Linked DNA regions of Homo sapiens. The protein of the gene in region 2 purifies or fractionates together with the protein of the main gene of each other region. This does not show direct contact. Each region holds a gene or a part of one and is shown on either strand. Other genes may lie near its edges.

The links.
Region 1: the proteins of SPANXN4 (region 2) and UBE2R2 purify together in Homo sapiens (affinity purification with mass spectrometry; one large-scale study listed by BioGRID and IntAct). This does not show direct contact.
Region 3: the proteins of SPANXN4 (region 2) and SSU72 purify together in Homo sapiens (affinity purification with mass spectrometry; one large-scale study listed by BioGRID and IntAct). This does not show direct contact.
Region 4: the proteins of SPANXN4 (region 2) and DUSP3 purify together in Homo sapiens (affinity purification with mass spectrometry; one large-scale study listed by BioGRID and IntAct). This does not show direct contact.
Region 5: the proteins of SPANXN4 (region 2) and INTS9 purify together in Homo sapiens (affinity purification with mass spectrometry; one large-scale study listed by BioGRID and IntAct). This does not show direct contact.
Region 6: the proteins of SPANXN4 (region 2) and CARNMT1 purify together in Homo sapiens (affinity purification with mass spectrometry; one large-scale study listed by BioGRID and IntAct). This does not show direct contact.
Region 7: the proteins of SPANXN4 (region 2) and MAN2B2 purify together in Homo sapiens (affinity purification with mass spectrometry; one large-scale study listed by BioGRID and IntAct). This does not show direct contact.

Annotation. Positions count from the first base shown.
Region 1 is NC_000009.12:33,815,759-33,819,959, reverse strand, and holds the start of UBE2R2 (ubiquitin-conjugating enzyme E2 R2), read right to left. Parts: upstream 2,801-4,201; 5' UTR 2,203-2,800; coding exon 2,026-2,202; intron 1,334-2,025; exon of another isoform or gene 1,092-1,333; intron 1-1,091. UniProt on the Homo sapiens protein: E2 ubiquitin-conjugating enzyme that accepts ubiquitin from an E1 ubiquitin-activating protein, and catalyzes its covalent attachment to other proteins by an E3 ubiquitin-protein ligase complex.
Region 2 is NC_000023.11:143,031,870-143,034,811, reverse strand, and holds the end of SPANXN4 (sperm protein associated with the nucleus on the X chromosome N4), read right to left. Parts: intron 788-2,942; coding exon 566-787; 3' UTR 501-565; downstream 1-500.
Region 3 is NC_000001.11:1,547,364-1,550,863, forward strand, and holds part of SSU72 (RNA polymerase II subunit A C-terminal domain phosphatase SSU72), read right to left. Parts: intron 1-3,500. UniProt on the Homo sapiens protein: Protein phosphatase that catalyzes the dephosphorylation of the C-terminal domain of RNA polymerase II. Plays a role in RNA processing and termination. Plays a role in pre-mRNA polyadenylation via its interaction with SYMPK.
Region 4 is NC_000017.11:43,776,178-43,780,343, forward strand, and holds the start of DUSP3 (dual specificity protein phosphatase 3), read right to left. Parts: upstream 2,801-4,166; 5' UTR 2,748-2,800; coding exon 2,623-2,747; intron 1-2,622. UniProt on the Homo sapiens protein: Shows activity both for tyrosine-protein phosphate and serine-protein phosphate, but displays a strong preference toward phosphotyrosines. Specifically dephosphorylates and inactivates ERK1 and ERK2.
Region 5 is NC_000008.11:28,879,970-28,883,469, forward strand, and holds part of INTS9 (integrator complex subunit 9), read right to left. Parts: intron 1-3,500. UniProt on the Homo sapiens protein: Component of the integrator complex, a multiprotein complex that terminates RNA polymerase II (Pol II) transcription in the promoter-proximal region of genes.
Region 6 is NC_000009.12:75,021,794-75,025,293, reverse strand, and holds part of CARNMT1 (carnosine N-methyltransferase), read left to right. Parts: intron 1-3,500.
Region 7 is NC_000004.12:6,578,189-6,581,688, reverse strand, and holds part of MAN2B2 (epididymis-specific alpha-mannosidase isoform 1 precursor), read right to left. Parts: intron 3,297-3,500; coding exon 3,191-3,296; intron 1-3,190.

The DNA.
Region 1 (4,201 bases), on a different chromosome or scaffold from region 2:
TGTTTTGTCAGAAAAGGCATCATGGCCGGGCGCAGTGGCTCACGCCTGTAATCCCAGCACTTTGGGAGGCAGAGGCGGGTTGATCACAGGGTCTGGAGTTCGAGACCGGCCTGGCCAATATGGTGAAACCCCATCTCTACTAAAAATACAAAAATTAGCTGGGCGTGGTGGCGTGCGCCTGTAGTCCCAGCAGCTTGGGAGGCTGAGGCAGGAGAATAGCTTGAATCTGGGAGGCGGAGGTTGCAGTGAGGCGAGATCGCGCCACTGCACTCCAGCCAGGGTGACAGAGCGAGACTCCGTCTCAAAAAAAAAAAAGAAAGGTATCACATACATTCAATTTTGTACAACTAATTTTTCCAGTATGCATAAAAATTTATATTTGACAACAGAGAATATGCTTCATCATAAACACAGCAATATCTTTTCCACTTTGTTACTAATAAGTTGCATGTTTTCTTAGTAATTTTAAATACCTCCATCTGAAAAGTATAGGGTAGGCTGACCACAAAAGATGAAGCCTAACAGTTGGTAGGGGTACCGCACTTACATAATATTCTAAAAACGTGCTTTTCCTAGGTACTCAGTGACTATATACAGTAGTGAATATTAAACATTCCTGTATCAATCCCATTTCCTACAAAGTTGACCTAATTTCAAGCATAAAACTGAGGTTTCCACCTTTAGAAGGGTAGAAAACAAGAGTTAAGTAATTGGGTAGTCCTAAAAATACACATCACAACTACATGACTAAGATACTCATTTAAAACTTGTGCCAAGATAACCCCTCCCTTCCAAACTAAAATTGACTCACTGGCCTATTTTACTTAATTTTGAAAATAAAAAAATAAAACTAAATGGATTCCTAAGCACTCATTTCCTCTCTCTGCCCCCATCATTTAAAATATTCAGACTTTCAATCTGTGATTCCTCCCTGCAAAAACACTCAAGTAAAAACAAAACAAAACAAACACTCATTATCTCCAAGTTAACTACCTTGGAGTTAAAAAAAAATCATTAGATTCTGGAATGATAACCACTGTTCTAAGACCATATAAAACAACAGAAACAATGTCTGTGGTCGCTAAGGAACCATACATCCCACCCAGAGAAACGATCTCGCCTCAGATGATACTTGTCATCTGTGAGACCACCCCTTTAGCTAGAGTTAACCACTTGAGCAGGTTTCAATTTTGTCTCTGAAAGTAGGAAGCTATCAGTCTCCCTACATGACTCGTTCCACCCTTTGTGGATACTTCTACCTGTAGAAAAAAAGGTTGGCAAACTTGGTGGCATGGTGAGGACAAAGGGCATTTTGAAAGAACCAGTGACTGAGGTAAGCAGAGAATGTGAACGGAAAGAGGGTTAAAGTTCCCCCAAATGGATAATGACAAGACGACGCGGGCACCCTTTTTTTTTTTTTTTTTTTTTTTACCACCCCTAGGGTCCCATTCTTCACCACCACCCATTGGAATGCAAAGTTGGCACTACCACTACCCAAGATGCCCAACAAATCCTCAAAATGTCAGGGCACTCGGCAGCTTCTGAAATGACAAGCTGGTGCCCCTCCCCCACCCCACCCCCACCCCCACCCCCCAAAAAAGAAAAGTCCAATCCAGTCGGTGCAGGTCACCCTGCCCTCTGGGGCAGTTCCAGCCTGCGCAGGGAGGGGTTCCGACCGGAGAACGAAAAAGCACAGATAGACCACCGCTCTTTCCACCCACCCTCAGCGGGGGAAACAAAGGCGGCCTCCTCCGCCCGTAGACACTACCCTAACCAGAGAGGCTCTCCGATTTCCCGGTGCAGCCTGCCCTCCCGCCCCCGCCCGAGCCCCCGCCCCCATGACAAAGAAAAGGCACTCGGCGAGCAAGGCCTTCCTGCCTCCAGGGATGGGGGAGGGGGCTGCACGGGTGAGAAGCCCCCTCCACTCGCCCGTGCTCATACTCCTGGTCCCAGGAACTGCAGAAAGCGGCGGGGAGCCGGAGGCCTCGGCCGCGGAAGCAGGGTCCGGGAGGAGGGTGAGGGTACCTTGAAGTAGCCGCCTTCGTAGAGGGTGTTGGGGGGTCCGAAGATGGCCACCTCCCAGTTGTAGAGGTCGGACTCGTCCACCAGGGTGATCCGGAAGCCCTCCACCGGTTCCTCCTGCAGGGATTTCAGCTCGAGCATCAGGGCCTTCTGCGAGCTGGTCATCTGCTGCTGGGCCATCGCGGCGGCGGCGGCGGCGGCGGCGCCGGGCCCGGGCCCCAGTCCTCACGCACCGGCCGGGCCGGACCAGGCCCCTCCCCTCCGCTCGCCCTCCGGCCGGGCAGCACCGGGCCCCGGTCTTCACACACCCGGCGGGCCAGACCAGGCCCCACACGGCCCGTGGGCCCGCCCGGGGTCCTCCTCACACACGACGCAGGCCGGGCCGGGCCCTTCTCCTCACACTCGGGCCGGGCGAGAGGAGAGGTCGAGGGAGTTAGGAGAATTCGCTACGGGTCCCGGTCCCGGGCCTCCCCCCCCCGGAGGGGGCCTCAACTTGGGGGGGGGGAGAGGAGGTGGAAGCGGAGGAAGGCGGCGGAGGGCCGGCGATGGTGAAGGGAGGGGGCCGGGCCGGCCCGGGAACGCCGCGCTCGCTCGCCCTCTCGTTCTCTTCGGGGGCCGCAGGGGCCGGAGGGCGCGCGGGGCAGGAGAGGGTGGGGGGAGAGCGGCGTGCGGGGGTCTCGCGGCGGTGGCGGCGGGGGCTGCGCGGGGGGAGGGGCGACGGCGGAGGAGGAGGAGAGCGAGAGCGCCTCGCGCCGCGGGAGCAACGGAGCCGAGAAGCAGGGAGGGAGGGAGGGAGGGAGAGAGGGAGGAGGGGCGCACGCCGGGTGCTGGGCGGCTCTCAGCGGCTGGCGGCCCGACGCGCGTGCGCGTGCCCCTCCCTCCCCTCCCCCCACCGTGCCTGGCTCTCCTCCACTACCACCTCCTCCTCCTCCCGTTTCCACGCCTCCTCTCGGTCTCCCGCGCGGTCGCGGCGCTTTGTGACGCTGGCGCGTGTCCCCCGCCCATAAAGATCCCAGAAGCAGCGGGGACCAAGGGCGGGCGCAGGGATTGCCGTGGCCCCAGAGTGACGGTTGTGCGGCTGGACGCCGCAGTTCCAAAGGCGTGCCCGGGAAGGGAACCCAGGTCTCCCGGCTCTCGGGGCCCTCCCCACTGTGGATCCAGGGGCCTCCGCAGCCATCCTGGGACGGGCCTGGTCGCTGCAGGCCCCTCCCCGTGACACCCAGTCTGCGGTCCCTCCACTTAGTAGCTACTTGATTAGGATGTGCTGACAATGTGGGTCTTTTCGGTGGGAACAGACCTTCCCGCAGGCCAGCCCACAGGCAAGTGTGCCCTTTGGCACGTTACTCACCCTGGGTGCGGCAGTTCCACGTGAGAAACGGGGTGAGACAAAAAGGTCAGCTTCTGCTTCCCTTCTTAACTACAAAGAGGAAGTTGTGAGGAAAAAGACAATAACAAACTGGGTCTCTAGCCCTTCTCATTGTGATTTGGGGCAAGTGCTCAGGCTGCCCTTCGCCTTCGCCATTTGTAAAATAAACTACTGTGGTTGAACTTAGGGGTCAAAGTTCCCTATAGGTGCTTGTGGCTTGAATGTCCACCCTGGAACTGAGGGACTTTCGAGATAATCATAACCGAAGTGAGATGTGGGGACAGTCTTTGGTCCCCCCGTGGTTCAGAATACAGTACTCCTTTCTCCTAGGAAGGCATGTCCTAGGATAACTGCCTAAAAAACATTTCCTAGAAAAGCCAGAATATTGTGAGAGTTCTACACACACAGTTTCGGAACTAGACAGATCTTGGTTCCAACCCTAGTTCCATTACTTCTCCCTGTATCATCAGTTTTTTGTTTTTTGGTTTTGTTTTGTTTGAGACAGGGTCTTGCTCTGTCACCCAGGCTGTAGCACAGTGGCGCGATCATGGCCCACTGCAACCTCCGCCTCCCAGGTTCAAGCGATTCTCCCACCTCAGCCTCCCAAGTAGCTAGGACTACAGGTGCATGCCTCCACACCCGGCTGTTTAATCAGCTTCTGTAAAAGGGGATTAATTATACCCAACACAAGCAATTGTAATGATTAAATGTATGTACAGCATTTAGCGTAGTGACTGGCACATGGTTAATGATTCATAGAAACTTGAAAGAAAAAAACTTTAAGGCATAGCTGTATTCTGGATACCACCACTA
Region 2 (2,942 bases):
TTCTTAACAAGCGCCCTAGTATTGGAAGCATGTCCTCCAAACACCATTATTTTATTGTGTGTGGCATGCTGTCTTACTTTCTGTAGGGTGAGGTTCTTGTTCCTTTTGAGGACCTTCAGTTGCTCACAGCATTGGGTGAGTTACAAAACACACCACTCTGAGGTATGTGGCCTGAAGGTGGTGATTCTGATGTCTTCATTTTGGAAAGAGTGTCACTGTCACCTACATACAATACAGATCTTCTTATGTGCTCTTCTAAACATGCACGTGCTCCAAGGAACACCAAATCCTTTTCTTCCTCTCCTGTGAGATAAAATTTTAAGAAGAAAATTTGTCTCCAGGAATCAGTCCTCCCCCAGTCTTTATTTACAATGTCTGGCTAACCTGTGGATCTGTCCGCCAATGCTACAGGATCTCATATCCCTCCGTTCTCAAATGCCTATCTTTTCCCTTCCCTTCCTCCCCACCATCAGAAAAAAAGGCAGAGGTATACACAGTCATCAGCTCCTCAAACTGATTTTATTGTAATCATCGCCATCAGTGGTGATGATTTGTCCAATTTGGACTAATTCTGCCCACCATCCTGTGGAGATCCTGCAGATATGTCTAGGTCTCCTTTCTCTTTGATTGGATCAGTGGAGCTCTCTGTAGGCTGGTTATTCTCCAGTTGATTTGAATTTCTTTTCTTATTCTTCCTGCAGTAAAACACTAATGTTGGATATTTTGCTTTTTCTGTCTCTTTCAAACTCTGTTCAGGGGCTGAGGCTCTGTGCAGATTCTTCTTCTTCTGGTAAAAAAACAGGGAGAGGCCAGAATGGTGTTATTTTGGATGAAGAGGGTAGAGAATAGATAGCAAGGGGGGCTTTATAAGAAGGAATGCAGGTTGAGGAAGGGGCTTGTGCCAGAGAAGAGCAAGGTGGAATCATAGGGTAGGGATCTATGGGGAAGAAGAGGAGCATGGGTAGGGTCATCTGTGTTACTCCAAACTGCATGACTTTGTAAGCTCCCTGCTATTATGCAGACCTCGGTCAAAGTGAAACATTCCATGGGGGTTCAGGCCATGAGAAACATCCTGTCTAACCACTTGACTACAAGGTGGACAAAGGCCCAACTAAGAAACATTGCTATCATATCTTTCTGGGCAAAGGTCCAAGAAACACCACAATGACATCCCACAGGAAAAAGGGTCAAACCACCTGATCATAAGAATATCTTATCAATATCCTGCCAGGCAGCATCCCATACTGCCCAGCTGCCTCCCACCAATACCTGTAAGTACCCCAGCCTGTAAGTGGTAGTGGGCTCTGGCATTAAGCTGGTCCCCCACTTCTGCAGCTGTCGGCAATATACCTGTGTTGCTGTTTGAGTGGTCCCCTCTTTGTGTGTCTTTAACCCTTGCCTTCCCTTCAAAACCTAACATTTTGGTGCCAAAACCCAGGATGGGGATTGAGTTCTACCAGGTAAGTCTTCTTTGCATCCTGGAAGGCAGCAAGCAGCAAAAACTAGACCTGAGCCTGCTTCCATATCCTGAGTGGACTACCTGTTCCCAGCCCCGTTCTCCTTATTCTCTCATTTTCTCCAGTCCTGGGCTGACCTCTAGGTCCTGATCAAACTCTCCATCCTCTGCTTCCTTACCCTTTCTGGGTGGCTCCAGTAAGGATCACCCCCATTGCTGGATCTTACATCCAACACCAGTCTCCAGTTAGTGGGTGAATCTCCCTTTTCCTCCTTTCCAGATTTTTCTCTATTTCTGCTGGTTCTCCAGAAAATCCTAGCACTGAGTTGGAGGTCTCCCTGGTCACCAGGTGACCGCAGCCTGCCTTCTCAGGGGACACCTTCAGAACGCTCACCACTCCAGCCACTCTGGCCTCTAGGGGACTGTGAAGAGCTGCCACAGCTCTTTGGTACATCCCAGCTCTCCTACGTCCATTCTCCTGGGAGGAATTGGGTAGTCACTTTTCTCCGGGGTATTCACTCCCCTTCTGGGCACTCACTCTTTTCTGGGATATTAACTCCCTTCTGAGGTACTTGCTTCCCTCTGGGGTATTCACTACCCTCTGGAGATACTCATTCCCTTCAGGGGTATGCACTCCCCTCCTCCAAACAACAAAACTTTCAACTTCCAAATTGAACATAATCTAAAAACTTTCTCTAATGCAATGGTAAAGGATCAAAAGTGCTTTGCTTATCTCCGTTCATGGATTGCTCTCTCTCTCTGCCAATCTTTTTCCCCTTTTCAAATCCTCCTCCTCAATGAAAAACCCGCAAAAATGCCTCCTCCTCAGGACAAGCCTTTCTCCTCTAATTTCAGCCTGGTTAAAAAAACCCCTATCTCAGTCCCCCTCCCAACATCATTTCCTCCTTCTTCTCCTTTGGCTCTGGCTCCTCCACCCCTTTACTGTCGCCCTCCATCCCCTCTTCGTTCTCCACCACAAACCAGGTCTCACACCCACCCCCCTAGTGCTGAAAACCAGGCACACACCCAAAGGCCTTCCAAAGCCCTTCCCTTGCAGGAGATCATGAGGGACAAAAGCATAATCTGAGATCATGTTCCCATCTCTCTAGCCAGCCTCTCCCATTTTAAAAGAGACTTGGCTCCTTTATCCAAGGATCCCATCTCTTTCCACAAGGAATTTTTGTATGCCACTCAATCTTACGACCTTACCTGGCAAGACACGTATGTCATGCTCTCCTCCACCCTCTCCCCAGAAGACAGGGAATGCATCTGGATGGCTGTCTATGCCAATGCAAACACCCTCCACCAACAACATGCTGCCCATAACCCAATAGGGACCCTAGCTGTCCCCAGGACTTACACCAATTGGAATTATCAGGCAACTTCTGCAGACAGACAAAAACAAGGCCATACGATATCATGCCTTCTAGCTGGCATAAATAAAGCTGCCCATGCTCTTTTCCTCTACTGCCTTTCAAAAGCCCTG
Region 3 (3,500 bases), on a different chromosome or scaffold from region 2:
GGCAATAAATTAAGAATCATTCAGTTAAGGAGAAATGTCTACTTCAGGGACAAAGCAGCAGCCTCCTCAGCTACACAAGGATGAGCGAGCAGCCACCCTTCTGGATCTCCTGGCGAGGAGATGCGAGGTGAGGCCCCGCCCAGAGGGCTAGACCTGCAAGCCCCACCAGAGGCTGTGAGGACCTGAGGAGGACCAAAGGGACCACAGACCAAGCCATGAGCTCACAGGGACGCAAGATCCCACCTGAATTCCGGCAGCAAAACCACGGTGCCAGTGAGTGCCACGAGGCAAAGGCTCAGAGCAAGGCGAGAGGACAGGAGCCGCTGGCGGGTGAGGCGGGGCCTTCAATAGACAGGCTCAGGGCCACGGGGAGGCTGAGCAGGTTTCGGGCCTGCGTGCGAGAGCCTGCTCTTCAAGTCATGGGGAAATCCTTTCTGAAGGAAGAACCTAAGTACTGCCGGGCGGGAGGAAGGGGAGAGAGGCGCCATCGGAACAGAAACCTGTCCCATCTTCCGGACACCTGCGCCGCCCAGGTCCTGCAGAAGTCCCACTGACGCAAAGCGTTCGACATTGAACCCACAAAGAAAGAAACCAAAGACTCAGCCCGGGCAAGAAGGCGACACCAGGCGGAGGGCCTGACCCATGCTAGGGCCCCAACTGGGCATGAGGGCCTGAAACGTACCCAGAAAAGTGGGCCAAGAGAGGGCCCAGGGCAGGGCAGGCAAAGAGGATGTGCCATCCATAGAATCGACTGCCCCCATTGGACTCCCAGGGCCTGGACATCCGGCTTTGCACAGTCCCTGCGGCCTCAGGGACCACGTTCAGTAGAGGGCGGCCAACACCCGAAGGCCATGAAACAGAGGCACACAGGAGCCTCAGCTGAAGTTAACACACATCTAAGAAATAAACTCCCAGCTGGGCGCGGTGGCTCACACCTGTAATCCCAGCACTTTGGGAGGCTGAGACAGGCGGATCACAAGGTCAGGAGTTTGAGACCAGCCTGGCCAATATGGTGAAACTCATCTATACCAAATTACAAAAATTAGCCAGGCGTCGTGGCAGGCGCCTTAGTCCCAGCTACTCTGGAGGCTGAGGCAGGAGAATTGCTTGAAGCCAGGAGGCGGAGGCTGCACTGAGCTGAGATCATGCCACTGCACTCTGGCCTCGGTGACAGGAGCAAGACTCTGTCTCAAAAAAAAAAAAAAAAAAAAAACTCCCAAGGATGGGCCAAGAAAATTGTCCAGAGGTGAGATGTGGCAGCCACGGGGTGGGGTGCTGGGGGTGGGTGCAGTGGGCAGGCCCCTCCCCTGCCCTGGCTTCCACATGGACCGCGGTGAGGAAGGTAGCTCCGCTCACCCACTCTGCGTCCTCCCACTCGCCCCCGGAGGCCTTCTGGACTTTGGCGTAAACAGGAGGAGCAGGCCCATCAGACCCTTGAGTGAGATTCCCATGGGTTGAGCACGTGTGGCCAATCCCGAGAGGCCACCGGCCAGCATGAGCCAATGTCCTGGCCCTCCCTGCCCTGTTGGTGTCACTCCCGTCCCACAGTGACGTCTGGAACCCTCCCCCGGTGTGTGGCTGCATGGCCTCCTGAGTCTGGGGATGGGAGAATAAGGCTTGTGCTGGAGGCCTTGGGCTGTGACACATACCTGTGGTCCCAGCTACTCGGGAGGCCGAGGCAGGAGGATGCCTTGAATCCAGGAGGGACCCAGAGAGATCTGGAATATTGTCTCATGCAACAGAAAGTGTCATCAACACAGAATCACGTTAAAATTCTGTGGGGGACTAACCATCAGAGAAACAAACTAAGCTTTCTGTCCACACAGAGCAACAAAGAAACCCTGCCTCTACAAAAAATAAAAAATTACCAGCCTGGGGCCGGGCACGGTGGCTCACGCCTGTAATCCCAGAACTTTGCGAGGCCGAGGCAGGTGGATCACAAGATCAGGAAATCGAGACCATCCTGGCTACCACAGGGAAACCCTGTCTCTACTAAAAACACAAAAAATTAGCCAGGCGTGGTGGCAGGCGCCTGTAGTCCCGGCTACTCAGGAGGCTGAGGCGGGAGAATGGCGTGAACCCGGAGGCGGAGCTTGCAGTGAGCAAGATCGCACCACCGCACTCCAGCCTGGGGGACAGAGCGAGACTCTGTCTCAAAAAAAAAAAAGAAAGAAAAAGAAAAAAAAAGGCTGCAGCCAGGCATGGTGGCTCACACCTATAATCCCACCACTTTGGGAGGCCGAGGCGGATGGCTTATCTGAGGTCAGGAGTTCGAGACCAGCCTGACCAATATGGCAAAACCCTGACTCTACTAAAGTACAAAAATTATGGCTGGGCGCAGTGGCTCACGCCTGTAATCCCAGCACTTTGGGAGGCCGAGGCGGGTGGATCACAAGGTCAGGAGATCGAGACCATCCTGGCTAACATGGTGAAACCCCATCTTTACTAAAAATATAAAAAATTAGCCGGGCATGGTGGCGGGTGCCTGTAATCCCACTGCTCAGGAGGCTGGGGCAGGAGAATAGCTTGAACCCAGGAGGTGGAGGTTGCAGTGAGCCGAGATTGCGCCTCTATACTCCAGCCTGGGTGACAAGAGCGAGACTCTGTCTCAAAAAAAAAAAAAAAAGATGGCAAAACCCCGTCTTCTCTACTAAAAATACAAAAATTAGCCAGGCATGGTGGTGCACACCTGTGATTCCAGCCTCCTCCGGAGGCAGAGGCACAAGAATCACTTGAACCTGGGAGGGGAGATTGCCATGAGCCGAGATCACATCACTACACTCCAGCCTGAGACAGAGCGAGAGTGTCTCAAAAAAAAAAAAAAAAAAGTATATATATATATATGTATATAAATCATGGCATCCAAGACAAGTCCACATGCCACCCAACCAGCAGACAACCCCCGCCATCCTCCACGCCAGCCCGGCTGGGGGTAGCTGGTGCCTCAGAGGGGCCACCCTTCAGGGTTCTTGGCAACGTGTTATTCTGAATGTCTGCTCTTTTCTTTCGAGTTAAGGCACATTTGTTCAATTTTAATTCAGGCAATTTTCAGCAGACATGAGTTTAACCCTAACCATGACTTTCCTGGCTAAGCCTAATGCTTTTGACCCTCCAGCAATTCCCAGACACCAGCGGACACCACAGGCCCTTTGCCAGCACTCAGAGAATCAGTGCCTGGGCCCTTGCCTCTCGCCAGACCCCACGGGGCCTTGAGCCCCGGGCCCCAGGCTGCTGGCCCCCCTCAAGTGCCTGCCAGGGATGGTCCCGGGCCCAGGGAGTCAGGACGAGGCAGTGATCTCGCCTGGCAGAGCCTCAACACTGTTCTGTTGTGGGAGGAAGATGGAGGGAGGGCGGAGGTTTAGCAAAGCACCACACCAGGGAGGACAAGCCTGCCGGAGCCAGGGACCATGGACTGGTGCCGGCCGGAAGGCCTGGTGGTTCATCAGCAGGAAGGCTGCACCCACCACTCACTCCACTGAACCATCACCCACCACACGCCC
Region 4 (4,166 bases), on a different chromosome or scaffold from region 2:
TTATTTCATCTCACAAAACATCCCAGTCCAAATAGCAGTTTATACTTTATAAAATGCCACCTCCTGTGTGATCTTGCTTGCCCACTGCGAGCAGCCCTGTGAGGAACAAGGATGGCAATATCCCTGCTTAACAGAGCTTGAACTCAGGCCCAACAGGATGAGCAGAGGGATGGGCACAGGCCCCGTGTGCTGCTGGTGGCAGATCTGGGAGAAGACCTCCTTTCTCCCGACATCCAGCCCTGCTCTATCTTCCACCTCACTCTGCCCCTCATGCCCACATCTGCTGCAAAACCCCCAAGGCCTGGCACATGTGGCTCACACAGGCTCTGGCTCTGCCTTGTGAGGACGTGGCTGCGGCCCTGATTTTGTTAAGGGAATGGAGCCCAAATCCTCTTGGTGCTTGGTGCTCACTGATCCTCCCTGTTGAGGAACCCCCACACCCCTGGCCAAGTCAAGGTCAGAGGTGCTTAGAGGGCAAGGGATGTATTTTCTACAGTGGCCATCAGCAATTGCCACTCTGGCTACACCAGACGTGTACAACCTTGGTTTCCACTTGGGAAGTGATGACAGCTGAATGGCCAACCTGCCCAAGCAAGCGGGATTCCTGAGGCTAACAAGGCCTGCTTGCTGCTTGGTGCAAGAGGAAGGGTGTCTCTAGAGCTTTCCAATTCCTGAAGCCTTTGGCTGACACTGTGGGACTCTGTTTATTCCTGCTTAGGACACCGCGCAAGACTGTGAAGCAGTGGCTGATAGAAAAAAACACTTTGAAGAGTCACTCCCATTCATCTCCCTTCTCTAATACTTTTTTTTTTTGAGATGGAGTTTCGCTCTTGTTGCCCAGTTGGAGTGCAACGGTACGATCTTGGCTCACTGTAACCTCCACCTCCCGTGTTCAAACGATTCTCCTGCCTCAGCCTCCGGAGTAGCTGGGATCACAGGCGCCAGGCACCATGCCCAGCTAATTTTTGTATTTTTAGTAGAGACAGGGTTTCACCATGTTGGTCAGGCTGGTCTCGAACTGCTGACCTCAGGTGACCCACCCGCCTCGGCCTCCCAAAGTGCTGGGATTACAGGCGTGAGCCATCGTGCCAGGCCTCTAATACTATTAATAATTCAACATTCAAAAAATTTACAATTATCATTATTACTATCTCTACTATGAATGAACATTGTACAGTGCCTGACATAAAGCAGGTGCTCAGACTGGTGAATGAATGATGGAATGGATGAGAACTGTCCCCATGAGGCTGGGGCCTGATGGACCCCTTCTAGTTCCATGATGACCCCCATTTCCGTGGCAGTCCTTGGCAGGCTAAACAGCAGGTCATAGCGGAGGTCAGGAAATACATACATGAACAAGACATTGACCCTGTCCTTGTAGTCCCTCACACACTCTGAGCCACCATTTCCTCCTCTGTAAAATGGGAGGAGGGTTAGTTTTGAGTTTTCAACATGCCATCCTTGGGCTGAGCCATGAAGCTTAGGATTTTGGTAACTGGGTCCTCAGAGTATCGTGAAAATCCAACTTGAGGCTTTCCAAGGCTGTACAGGCATGCTAATATATTCTTTCTTGAGGCTCCTATTTCACATCTCAGAATGTTAACACTGGTTCTTTCCTGCTGATTAGACATTCTTACTAGAAAAAAAATTTAAAATTTAAATTAAAAAAAATCTCTTACTGTCCGGGTGCGGTGGCTCACGCCTGTAATCCCAGCACTTTTGGAGGCCGAGGTGGGCGGATCATGAGGTCAGGAGTTTGAGACCAGCCTGGCCAAGAGACCAGCCTGGCCAATATGGTGAAACCCCGTCTCTACTAAAAATACAAAAAGTAGCCAGGCGTGGTGGCGGGCGCCTGTAATCCCAGCTACTCGGGAGGCTGAGGCAGGAGAATTGCTTGAACCCAGGAGGCAGAGGTTGCAGTGAGCCGAGATCTCGCCATTGCACTCCAGCCTGGGTGACAGAGCCTGGGGGTGAAAGGTCAAGAGCCTTTTCTAGGTGGTGGCTCAGGTCCTTAGGGGGGTTATCACTGGACCGTTCTAGAATCTCCTGTAAATCAAATCACATCTGGAAGGTGGGGGCCTGGAAATCCCGGCCCAGCTCCCCGGACTCGCTCATTTGGGGTGTTTAGGTTCCCTGATCCGGGACTGCCGGGCCGGGAAAATTCCATGCCCGAATTGTGACGTCGGCCCGTTGCCATGGCGGCGAAGGCAGACATTCCGCGGTGACCTCACTGCAGAACCAGGCAGCTGTCACATGACGCGCGGGCAGGAGACCGGCCGGGCGACCGAGGGTCACCTGTTAAGTGAACATGGTAGCCCCGACCCCGCCCAAGGCCAAGCCCCAAGCGGGTGGCGGCTGGGACCCGGGCAGGCGCCACCCGGGCTCCGTGCACCCCGCCACGGGGAAGGGCCGCGCCCGGCCAGGCAGGGTTCCAGTTCCTTGGCCCCACGCGCGGGGGTAGGCGTCGACTCCAGGCCCCTCCCAAGCCCCCGCTGTGGCTCCCGGAGGGGCCATCGCGCCCGGGCTCCCCCAACCCAAGACTCGCGACACCCCGACCCCAGCCTCGGGTGGGCGGGGCGTCCCGAGAGGGACGGCGGGGCCGGGCTCGCGAAAGGGACTCACGCGTTGCCCACGTAGATCCGCGGGGTGACCTCGTTGCAGGGCTGGCTCGGGAGGCTGTAGCAGCCGCTGCCGTCCGAGAGCAGGTCGTTGAGATCCTGCACCGAGAGCTCGAACGAGCCCGACATGGCGGCGGCGGGGCCCTGCACGCCCGGCAGGAGCAAGCGAGGCGGAGAGCGGCGGATCAGCTGGGCGGGGGCTCGCGCCGGGAGCCGCCCCGTCCCGCCCCTGGGGCGGGCCCGCCGGGCTCCGGGAGCTGCGGAGCGCGGGCGCCGTGACGCGGGGGCCCCGCGCGCCACTCCTGGGCGCGTCCCGGGGGGAAGACGCCACCGCCCTGGAGTCTCAGGGGTCCTCGCCCCATCCCGGTCCAGGCCGTTTGTGTATCTTTGTAAACTGGCAAGCGCGGTAACTTCCTTCCCTGAATTAAATGCAGGGCCCAATAAACATTTCGTGGCGGAGGTACACCTAGGGGTCGCTTCAGTCTTTCATGATTACAGGGACCGCCGGGTTCGGCTCGTGAGCGGCTCCCTGCAGTGGAGGCACCACCCGGGCGCTTGACAGAATCCCCGCCCCAGCCCAGCCCTGCTGGATCAGAGTGGACATTTTACGGACCCCAGGAGGTCCCTACGGTCAAAGTCTGAGAAGCCCTACTCTGGGGCGCATCTGCTTTCAACATTCATTGAGAGTCATCGTCGTGCTTAAAAGCAGTCAGGTTTGGAATTCTGAGGAATTACTTAACCTGAGCCTGTTTGCAGGGAAAAAAAAAAAAAGCGGGATAGTAATGGTACCTAATTCTAGGGTTGCTGGAAGGGTTAAATGTGACATTCAAAGAAGGCACCCAGCACTGCATGGCGAGCACTCAATAGGTGTTAGTCCTTCATCAACAAATGCGTTGAGCACCCAGTGGGTGCTATACCCTGTGCTGGGGTGGAGATAAATCAGACTCCTGCAGCCCTTCCTGGAGCAGATGCCAGCCCACCATAAGCCACTCAGCATTTCCTGAACTCCCACTAAGTACAAAAGATAGTCTCTGTACTGGAGGAAAGCTGCCCTCCCCTACTGCCATGAAAAACTGGCAGTTTCCTTCCTGCAAAAGGGCAAATTTGGCCTTGAATTCAGGAACCCCACATCCTGAGCCCAGCCCTGCCACCAACTTGGTTCTTGAGTAACGTTGCTGCTGCTGTGGTCTTCAGTTTCCTCATTTGCAAAAGGAATTGGATCCGATTATCATTAGGGTCAACTTTCTCCTCCTCCAAAACTTGTGGTCTTGCACCTTCAGGGGAGCTATTGCAGTGGAGACTACTTAGCTGATAGCCCAAGATGTGTAACCAAGGCTGGAATTTCTGTATCCCTCACCCCACCCCGTGCCTGCCCACCCCTCCCGGTGCACCACTTCTTTCCTTCTGGTGTTGGCTGGCAGCATCTGCATTCTAAGCAGCGGGGAAAGCTTTCGAGTTCCTTGACCTTCATCTTGACTTGAGCCGAGGTTAGCATTAAAAACACAAGCCCAGAGGCAGCCAGCCATGCTCTGCTGCTCCTACTCCCTT
Region 5 (3,500 bases), on a different chromosome or scaffold from region 2:
ACTCTGAAATCTACTAAAAGTCATTGAATTTTGTTTTATATGCAAGAATTTTACATATTACATATTACACCTCAAAAAAGCTGTTTAAACAATGTAAAAAAAGGTAACTATAATAATATCATTTACATATTAAAACTACTGCTTTTTACCCATATTTCCACATGCTGGAAAAAAATAGAGGAAAGAAGACTTATAAAGCTAGAATATCTCATTATGCTTGCCTTTATTTTAATGGCATAGAAAAATGTAGACATAGCTCTCCCTCTCCCTCTCCCTCTCCCTCTCCCTCTCCCTCTCCCTCTCCCTCTCTCTCCCTCCACGGTCTCCCTCTGATGCCGAGCCAAAGCTGGACGGTACTGCTGCCATCTCAGCTCACTGCAACCTCCCTGCCTGATTCTCCTGCCTCAGCCTGCCGAGTGCCTGCGATTGCAGGCGCGTGCCGCCACGCCTGACTGGTTTTCGTTTTTTTTTGGTGGAGACGGGGTTTCGATGTGTTGGCCGGGCTGGTCTCCAGCTCCTAACCGCGAGTGATCCGCCAGCCTCGGCCTCCCGAGGTGCCGGGATTGCAGATGGAGTCTCGTTCACTCAGTGCTCAATGGTGCCCAGGCTGGAGTGCAGCGGCGTGATCTCGGCTCGCTACAACCACCTCCCAGCCGCCTGCCTTGGCCTCCCAAAGAGCCGAGATTGCAGCCTCTGCCCGGCCGCCACCCCGTCTGGGAAGTGAGGAGCGTCTCTGCTTGGCCACCCATCGTCTGGGATATGAGGAGCCCCTCTGCCTGGCTGCCCAGTCTGGAAAGTGAGGAGCGTCTCTGCCCGGCCGCCATCCCATCTAGGAAGCGAGGAGCGCCTCTTCCCCGCCGCCATCCCATCTAGGAAGTGAGGAGCGTCTCTGCCCGGCCGCCCATCGTCTGAGATGTGGGGAGCACCTCTGCCCCACCGCCCTGTCTGGGATGTGAGGAGCGCCTCTGCTGGGCCGCAACCCTGTCTGGGAGGTGAGGAGCGTCTCTGCCCGGCCGCTCCGTCTGAAAAGTGAGGAAACCCTCTGCCTGGCAACCGCCCCGTCTGAGAAGTGAGGAGCCCCTCCGTCCGGCAACCACCCCGTCTGGGAAGTGAGGAGCGTCTCCGCCCGGCAGCCACCCCGTCCGGGAGGGAGGTGGGGGGGTCAGCCCCCCGCCCGGCTGGCCGCCCCGTCCGGGAGGTGAGGGGCGCCTCTGCCCGGCCGCCCCTACTGGGAAGTGAGGAGCCCCTCTGCCCGGCCAGTCGCCCCGTCCAGGAGGGAGGTGGGGGGGTCAGCCCCCCGCCCGGCCAGCCGCCCAGTCCGGGAGGGAGGTGGGGGGATCAGCCCCCCGCCTGGCCAGCCGCCCCGTCCGGGAGGTGAGGGGCGCCTCTGCCCGGCCGCCCCTACTGGGAAGTGAGGAGCCCCTCTGCCCGGCCAGCCGCCCCGCCCGGGAGGGAGGTGGGGGGGTCAGCCCCCCGCCCGGCCAGCCGCCCCGTCCGGGAGGGGGGAGGGGGGGGTCAGCCCCCCGCCCGGCCAGCCGCCCCGTCCGGGAGGGAGGTGGGGGGGGTCAGCCCCCCGCCCGGCCAGCCGCCCCGTCCGGGAGGGAGGTGGGGGGATCAGCCCCCCGCCTGGCCAGCCGCCCCGTCCGGGAGGTGAGGGGCGCCTCTGCCCGGCCGCCCCTACTGGGAAGTGAGGAGCCCCTCTGCCCGGCCAGCCGCCCCGTCCGGGAGGGAGGTGGGGGGGTCAGCCCCCCTTCCGGCCGGCCGCCCCGTCCGGGAGGTGAGGGGCGCCTCTGCCCGGCCGCCCCTACTGGGAAGTGAGGAGCCCCTCTGCCTGGCCAGCCGCCCCGTCCGGGAGGGTGGTGGGGGGGTCAGCCCCCCGCCCGGCCAGCCGCCCCATCCGGGAGGTGAGGGGCGCTTCTGCCCGGCCGCCCCCACTGGGAAGTGAGGAGCCCCTCTGCCCGGCCACGACCCCGTCTGGGAGGTGTGCCCAGCGGCTCATTGGGGATGGGCCATGATGACAATGGCGGTTTTGTGGAATAGAAAGGCGGGAAGGGTGGGGAAAAAATTGAGAAATCGGATGGTTGCCGGGTCTGTGTGGATAGAAGTAGACATGGGAGACTTTTCATTTTGTTCTGTACTCAGAAAAATTCTTCTGCCTTGGGATCCTGTTGATCTGTGACCTTATCCCCAACCCTGTGCTCTCTGAAACATGTGCTGTGTCCACTCAGGGTTAAATGGATTAAGGGCGGTGCAAGATGTGCTTTGTTAAACAGATGCTTGAAGGCAGCATGCTCGTTAAGAGTCATCACCACTCCCTAATCTTAAGTACCCAGGGACACAAACACTGCGGAAGGCCGAAGGCCGCAGGGTCCTCTGCCTAGGAAAACCAGAGACCTTTGTTCACTTGTTTATCTGCTGACCTTCCCTCCACTATTGTCCTATGACCCTGCCAAATCCCCCTCTGCGAGAAACACCCAAGAATGATCAATAAAAAAAAAAAAAATAGAAATAAAATAAAATAAAATAAAAAAAAAAGAAATATATGCAAGCGATATTAACAGCTAAAAAAAAAAAAAAAGAAAAAAAAAAAGAAAAATGTAGACATAATGTATTTAGAAAAAGAGACTCTGATTAAGCCATAAATCTGAGAAATGGATTATGCAAGACATCTTATTATACACCTCCCCCACCTCTTCATAAACATCAGTGATGAGAAATAAACTACCCTAAAGCCAAAAAAGGTGTTAGTTTTACAATACCTATTAAAGAATAGCTTTCTTGAACATCATTTGTCTGATTACCTGTCTTTGAGAGAGCTAAAAGTTCATTCAAATGTGCTTTCAATAAATTTAAACATTTTAAATCTTTGAGGCATTTCCTTCAAATTCATGGTAAATCAGGGGCCATTTAAACCTGTTGTTTTTCTCACAGTAAAGTTCCCACCACACAGTTACTAGTCTTGATCACTGAGCAACTTGCGACTTTCAAGCCAGTGCCTTTCTCTTGCAGGGTCTTCTCTATTTTCCCTTCCTGTCCTTTCTTTTCCTACTCTTGCCTTTTCTTGCGATCCCTGCAAATTTCTGGCACGTACCCCTTTCTTAGCCCTGCCTGATGTGTCAACTCCAGGCTTCCTCTCACTGGCCTTCCCCTTTCTGGGGAGTATAGGGGATTTCCTCTGCCATCTACCCACACTTCCCCAGCTGCCTCTCCAATCTGTCTGATCTCACAGTACCATCATCTTAATTCCTACATCTATGCACTGGCATTTCCAAAGCAACACCATAGATCTTTTACAAGCTTCCTTTTGAAGATTCTTATGGCACCATATTTTTATCTGAAGAAATGTGTTCCCCTTTCTGGTCCATCTTCCCACGTCTGCAATCACTACTCCAGGGACACTTTACTAAACACGGATGAAGTCTATAGTAGACTGAGAGCATGTGAGGATAGATCAAAGAAGAAAGTTACATTCAGAAGACAAATAGTAAAAGTAAAGAAAC
Region 6 (3,500 bases), on a different chromosome or scaffold from region 2:
AAGTAAATTGCATATAGCAGTAAACAGATTTCATCAAATTTAATGCAATACCATAAACCTTAAATAACACCATGGGTCCCATATGACGTGCCACTGGTGATGCTGCAGGTGCTCCCAAGAAGCAGAGAAAAAAGACATTACAAGAAAAAGTTGATTTGTTTGATATGTACTGTAGATAGAGGTCTGCAGTTGGAGGTTGCCCCCCAACCCCATTTCAGACAGAGGATTCATCTTGTAATCAAATTATGTAAACTTATAGTATTGATAAATGCAGTGCAGTAGTGTAAATGTATTTTCCCTTTCCTACGACTTTCTTAATATTTTCTTAGCTTTATTGTAAGAATATAGTACGTAATATATTAACATACAACATATCTGTCAGTTGTTTATGTTATTGGTACGGCTTTCGGTCAGTAGTAGGCTATTAGTAGTTAAGTTTTTGGTGAATCAAAGTTAGGTGTGGGTTTTCGACTGCACAGGGGGTTGGTGCCCCAACCCAAGTATTGTTCAAGGGTCAGCTGTACGTCCAGATTTTGCAGGGTTCAATTTTACTGCAAAATGTCTTTTAGTTAATACGTAGGAGATTTAGATAAAAGGTCATAAAGCAAGGAATGTCTTTTGATTAATATTTTCTCTTTCTAATGGGTTTCAATTTTGTGATTCCCACAGATTTTGCTTAGATGACATTCTCATTAAGGTAAAAATGGATATAGCTCATTTGTATTGAATAGCAAAAATGTTAGTTTTATAACCCAGTCTTGTTACGAATGAAGCACCTCAGCACATAGAAAACACTAGAGTTGAAAAGCTGAAAGTCTTTTCAGAAACTTCTTACTTTTAGAAATAACGGGGTGAGATTTTTTAATATTGAGATTTAGAACTGATTTTTACAGGTGAGGATGTGGATAGACACAAAGCGGTAAGCAACTTGCTCAGGGTTACACAATCCAGTTGTGGTAGAATCTGACCTAAAATCCAAAATCGTTACCTAAAATTTTACTGTGCATTAATGAGGAGTTATACTAGTAACACAAATTTAATGTTAGGTATTTAATAAAGATTTAAAATGAATCAAGACAGGCCAGGCTTTGTTTCTGACAAGTTATGTTTTTTCTATTTGGATTTCCTAGAGTAGTTCAACTAGGTGCAGAGGAATGGGCCTGTGACCATGGCCTTTAGATCAGACCTGGTGTGGGCTCACCCTGATGACAGGTGACTAAATCAGAGTTGAGGTCACTGCTGACACCAGGTTTCTAGAGAGAGTTAGAGGTAGAGATACCACCATTGGGGAAAAATGGCTACTAAGTTTACTTTCTCCTCTTATCAGCAAGAGGATGTCACCTCCTGATGCTGACTTAGTTCAGAACCAAGGAGAGTCTGATTTTTGTAAAATACTCCTTCAAAGCAGGTTTGGCAGAGTTTCTTAAAAGGGCCAGGCAGTAAATATTTTAAGCTCTGAAGGCCAAGTGGTCTCTTGTTACAACTCATCAACTCTGCCCTTGAATGGAAGGAGCCTTAGGCTTTGTGTAATCAAATAGTGTGGCTTTGTACCAATAAGACTGTACAAAAACCAGGTAGCCAATGGGCCCCTGCCTTAAAGCAATTCTGATAGCGTAAGCATGTGCAGGATAGTGAAGTTAGCCCCAGTTATAAGGGTATAATAAGGATTGGACTATATTCTCAACTTTAGTAAGATCCCACCTATTTTAAGAGTCACTGGTGGATGTATGTTATGGCAGCTTTGCACACCATTAAGTAACCAGGGGTTTAAGGATCTCATCCTGCTCTGTGTAGTTACTTCTGTATCAAAAATTGACAGCTCTTGTAACCAATCTATAACTTATCTCAACTCACCCTTGCAACCTTGATATTACTTGGTGATAAGTAGTCTCCATGGAAAACCAAAAGTGGCACCCGTGGGAATATAACTGAACATTTATTGCTTTTTACATATGCTGAAATACGGAGATATTGAATAATGACCAAGATGACACTTGTGTTTTAGAATAATTCTTCTGATTAGAGGTGGGGCAGGAAGGGCAGGGGAGGAGTTAGGAAGTAGAATTGAAAAGTATCCTGGGTTTATTGATTGTGGGACTAGGAGAAGAGGCATTTAGGATGACTCCTTAATTTCTTTTTCTTTTTTTTTTTTTTTTTTGAGTCTTGCTCTGTCACCCAGGCTGGAGTGCAGTGGCACAATCTCAACTCACTGCAACCTCTGCCTCCCAGGTTCAAGCGATTCTCCTGCCTCAGCCTCCCAAGTAGCTGGGATTACAGGCGCATGCCACCATGCCTGGCTAATTTTTTGTATTTTTAGTAGAGACAGGGTTTCACTGTGTTAGCCAGGATGTTCTTGATCTCGAACTCCTGACCTGAAGTGATCTGCCCACCTCAGCCTCTCAAAGTGCTGGGATTACAGGCGTGAGCCACCATGCCCGGCTGATGACTCCTTTAATTTCTAACTTGGGTGCATTTGTTAATCTTAGCCATGAAGGAAGGAGGGCAGGTTTTTGTGGGGCATGTGCTAAGTTCACTTTGGATATGAGTTTTGAGTATGGTGAGAGGGAAGTTGTGGGGCATCCAGAGCCCGGGAGTAAACACTAGGAAGAAAGCTCTGTGAGGCTGTTCAACTGTTGAAGCTCTGCTGTTTGCCTAACTTGATGTGGCCATTTTAGTTCCTTTAATGTCATACTCTGCTGTTAGGAATGTAAATTTATGGAGTCTTTTTGCACATCATTTTATATCAAGAGCCTTAAAAATACTAACTCCTGGCCAGGTGTAGGGGCTCACGCCTATAATCCCAATATTTTTGGAGACCAAGGTTGGCAGATCACTTCAGGTCAGGAGTTCAAGATCAGCCTGACCAACATGGTGAAACCCCATCTCTACTAAAAATATAAAAATTAGCCGGGCATGGTGGTGTGCACCTGTAGTCCCAGCTACTTGGGAGACTGAACCAGAAGAAGCGCTTGAAGCTGGGAGGCAGAGCTGGCAGTGAGCTGAGATCATGCCACTGTACTCCAGCCTAGGTGACAGAGTGAGACTCCATCTCCAAAAAAAAAAAAAAAAAAAAAAAAAAAGTATTCCTTCTCACCTGGTAATTCTGGTTTTGAGAGTTTATGCTAATTTTTTTCCTAAATTATAGACAGATTTTGAACACAAAATGTTCATCACAAAAACAAGTGAGTGTCTAAATGCCCAGTAGTTGGGAAATAGCTAAGTCACTGATGGTTACCTAAGATGGAATGATGAACATCCACTTTGTACCCCACAAATATAGACAATTATAATTTGTCAGTATTCAGCTTAAAAAAAGTAAGATGCTAGATGACTTTTTTTTTTCTTCTCTTTTTTGGAGACAGGGTTTTTGCTCTGTTACGCAGCCTGTAGTGCAGTGACACAATCATAGCTCGCTGCCCCCTTGACTTTCTGGGCTAAAGCAATTCTCCTACCTCAGCCTCCCAAGTAGGTGAGACTACAGGCATGCACCACCACGCCTG
Region 7 (3,500 bases), on a different chromosome or scaffold from region 2:
TGCTCCTGTCTTCCTTTGCTGTCCAGGGCCTGCCTCGAGGCAGGGGCTCCACCAAGGTGAGATGGAGGATAAAGGGCCCGGAAGCAGTGAGGGGTGATCCAGCCCCTCTTACCCCAACATATCTGAGAAAACCAGCCCAATGTGGACATAATTCACAGCCAGAATGCCTGGGACATCTGAGATGGGTGGTCTGATACACACACTCTGCCCCCGCCCTAGGGACTACAAGTTAAGGAAAGAGCCCAGGCCAGGCACACATGGGCTTGAGCGCCAGTTCTGTTACCTACTGCATATATATAAATCCCGCATCTCTCAGTACCTCAGTTTCCTCATCTGTCAAATGGGGCTGTGAACAGTACCACTTGCTACCAGGCTGTTCTGAGGCAACTAAGAGATAGCAGATGGGAAAGGGCTTGGCTCAGCCGCCAGTGAGAGGGGCTCAGCCACAAGTAACCTTCCTGACTCGGCCGGGCTAGGGTTGGATCTGGGTCCCATCACTTAGCTGGTGGTGGGCACATTTGGATAGCATTTGAGCCTCAAACTTCTCTACAAATAAGCATTTGTAAGATTACCCATCTACCAGATTGCCCTGAGGACTGAAAAAAAAATACGTGTACATCTTGTACCTAGAACAAGGTGGTTATCATGAAAGAAACCCACATGTCTGTACCCTGAGGGCCCCATGAGCTTGGACAGGTTTGGAAATGGAGCCTCACAACAGCCGCTGTCTCTTGTGTCTCTGGAGGCTCTTCCTGCCCCAGAGCGACACAGCCTCAGCTTCCCTGAGGCTTCCAGTTGCCAGGTCAGACCTGCAGGGTCAGCGCTGGGGTATCAGCACTTAGGCACGGTGGGCTGAGGCCAGAGGCGAGGTACCCCAGTGGTGGGTACCCTCAGGGCAGGGCAGTTCAGCGCCCACCCCTTGCCCAGCCTTGCCCAGTAAGCAGTGGTCTGGGCCAGACCCTATGCTGGGTGCTGAGATGAGTCAGATGGGGGTCCCTGCCAGGGGCATCTTGAGGTTCAGCGGTTAAGTGGGGAGGTGACACAGAACTGCAGAGACTCAGAGATTTCCTGCGGGAGGGGCTTCTCAGCTGCATCTTGAGGAGGAGGGTGGAGAATGAGGGGGAGCACTGCGTGAAATGGCACAGGTGAGAAACAGCCCCAGAGCCTCCTCGCTGGCACGGGGCAGGAGGCAGGTGGGGGACACGCCTACAGTGTCACACATTCCCTGGCAGTGGGCTTGTGAAGGGGTGTGGGGGAAGTCTGTTGGGATAGATCCCTTGCCCACACTTCACATGGGGGAGTGAAAGAGCAGGGGCTCTGGAGTCAGGGAGCCACAGCAGGCGGCTGAGGGCAAGGTGCTCCCTCTGAGCCTTGCTGTCCTCCCCTGTTACCTCTGGGCCTGTGGGGATGCAGGGGGACAAGCAGGGGCTGAGCTCCTGGCCACAGGAGGAGCTCTGTCTGTAGGGCTGTGTCCATCACGCCTCCTTCTCATGGAAGGGCAAGTCTAGGGTTTGAGCAAAGTCCAGATGTAAGGCAGTAAGAAACTGAGACAGGGGAACACTCCAGATTACAGATGAGAAAAGGGAGAGTGCCAAAAACATCCTTTGACAACATTGCTCTCTGCCTGGATGTTTTACAAATGGGGAAATCAGGGCCCATGCTGTAGTGGAGTGACTGTGGACTCGGAGCTTCAGTCCCTAGGCCTGGACTCAAGTCCTGGCCATCTACCCTGGAGAGAGTTACTGCATTTCTTTGGATCTCAGTTTCTACATCTGCAAAATGAAACTGGGCATCACCATGCCTCACCATCAGCCCGCCATTAGGATTGGCTGGGGTGTCACTGTGAAAGGCATTTGGTAAATGGTGAGTAGAGTGCCCCACGGCACTGTGGGTGATGGTGCTGAGGACAGTGGACACAATGGTGAGGGAGATGGTCATGGTGGTGGTGATGATGATTGTGGAGGGGATGGTAGTAATGGATGTGGTGATGGTGGTGGCGACAGTGATGGGTGGTGATCATGGTGATAGTGTTTAGGGGGTGGTGGTGATGGTAGTGGTAGTAATGGTCATTGTAGTGGTGAAGATGATGGTGGTAGTGGTGATGGTGGTGATGGTAGTGGTAGTAATGGTAGTGGTAGTGGTGGTCATAGCAGTGGTGAAGGGTGGTGGTGATGGTAGTTATGATGGTGGTGGTGATGGTAGTGGTAGTGATGGTCATTGTGGTGGTGAAGGGTGGTGGTGATGGTGAAGGGTGGTGGTGATGGTGGTGGTGATGGTGATGGTGGTGGTGGTGATGGTGAAGGGTAGTGGTGGTGGTGGTGATGGTGATGGTGGTGGTGATGGTGATGGTGGTGGTGGTGGTGGTGGTGATGGTGGTGGTGGTGGTGATGGTGGTGGTGATGGTGATGGTGGTGGTGATGGTGGTGGTGGTGATGGTGGTGAAGGGTGGTGGTGGTGATGGTGGTGGTGGTGGTGGTGATGGTGATGGTGGTGGTGCTGGTGATGGTGATGGTGGTGGTGGTGGTGGTGATGGTGATGGTGGTGGTGATGGTGGTGGTGGTGGTAGTGGTGATGGTGATGGTGGTGGTGCTGGTGATGGTGATGGTGGTGGTGGTGGTGATGGTGATGGTGGTGGTGATGGTGGTGATGGTGGTAGTGGTGATGGTGATGGTGGTGGTGGTGGTGATGGTAGTGGTAGTGATGGTCATCGTGGTGGTGGTGGTGATGGTAGTAGTCATGGTCATTATGGTGCTGAAGGTGGTAATTGTGATGGAAGGCAGCAAACACTTACTGAGCATTTACTAGGGAACCCACATCCTACTAAAGTGCTTTATTTGAATTATCCCATTTAATACTCACAACAACCCTTTGAGGTAGGTATTACCATCAAACTCATTTTATCTATGAGGAAACTGAAGTTACATTCCTTTCCAGGGTCACAGAGGAGGGAATTGGCAGAGCCAGGATATATTGAGACCATCTGACTCTAGCATCCATGCTCTTAACCCCTACATTCAACTTCCTTGGTGAGGCATGAATATGGCACTAGCAAATCACTGCTTTCACTGGTTAAGGTCCCCGACCCCACTAAGAGGGGCAGACAGAGCTCAGAACCTGGGGGTTCTGATACCATGTCCCAGCCCCACTGGAGGTCCTGAGGGACCCTGGGTGCAGGGTAGGGTGGCCAAACCTGTGAGCTGCAGGATCTGGTCATCAAGGTGCGTCACAGCCTCGTCATGCATGACCTGGCCTCCGATGACAAATTCCAGGCGTCCTTCCTCCAGGAGCTGGCGGACCTTGACATGGGCAGGCAGAGAGAAAAAAGCCAGTTACGGCTCCTGAGCATGGCTGGGTCTGTGGGGAACACACCTACAGCGCCACACACGCCCTGCATAAAACTCCCCACCCTTGCTTACTCTATAAAAGCAGGGCACTGTCTGTCCTGGTCCACACTGTGTTCCCACCACCTAGAAATCATGCAGCCCTCAGGTGGTATTTGA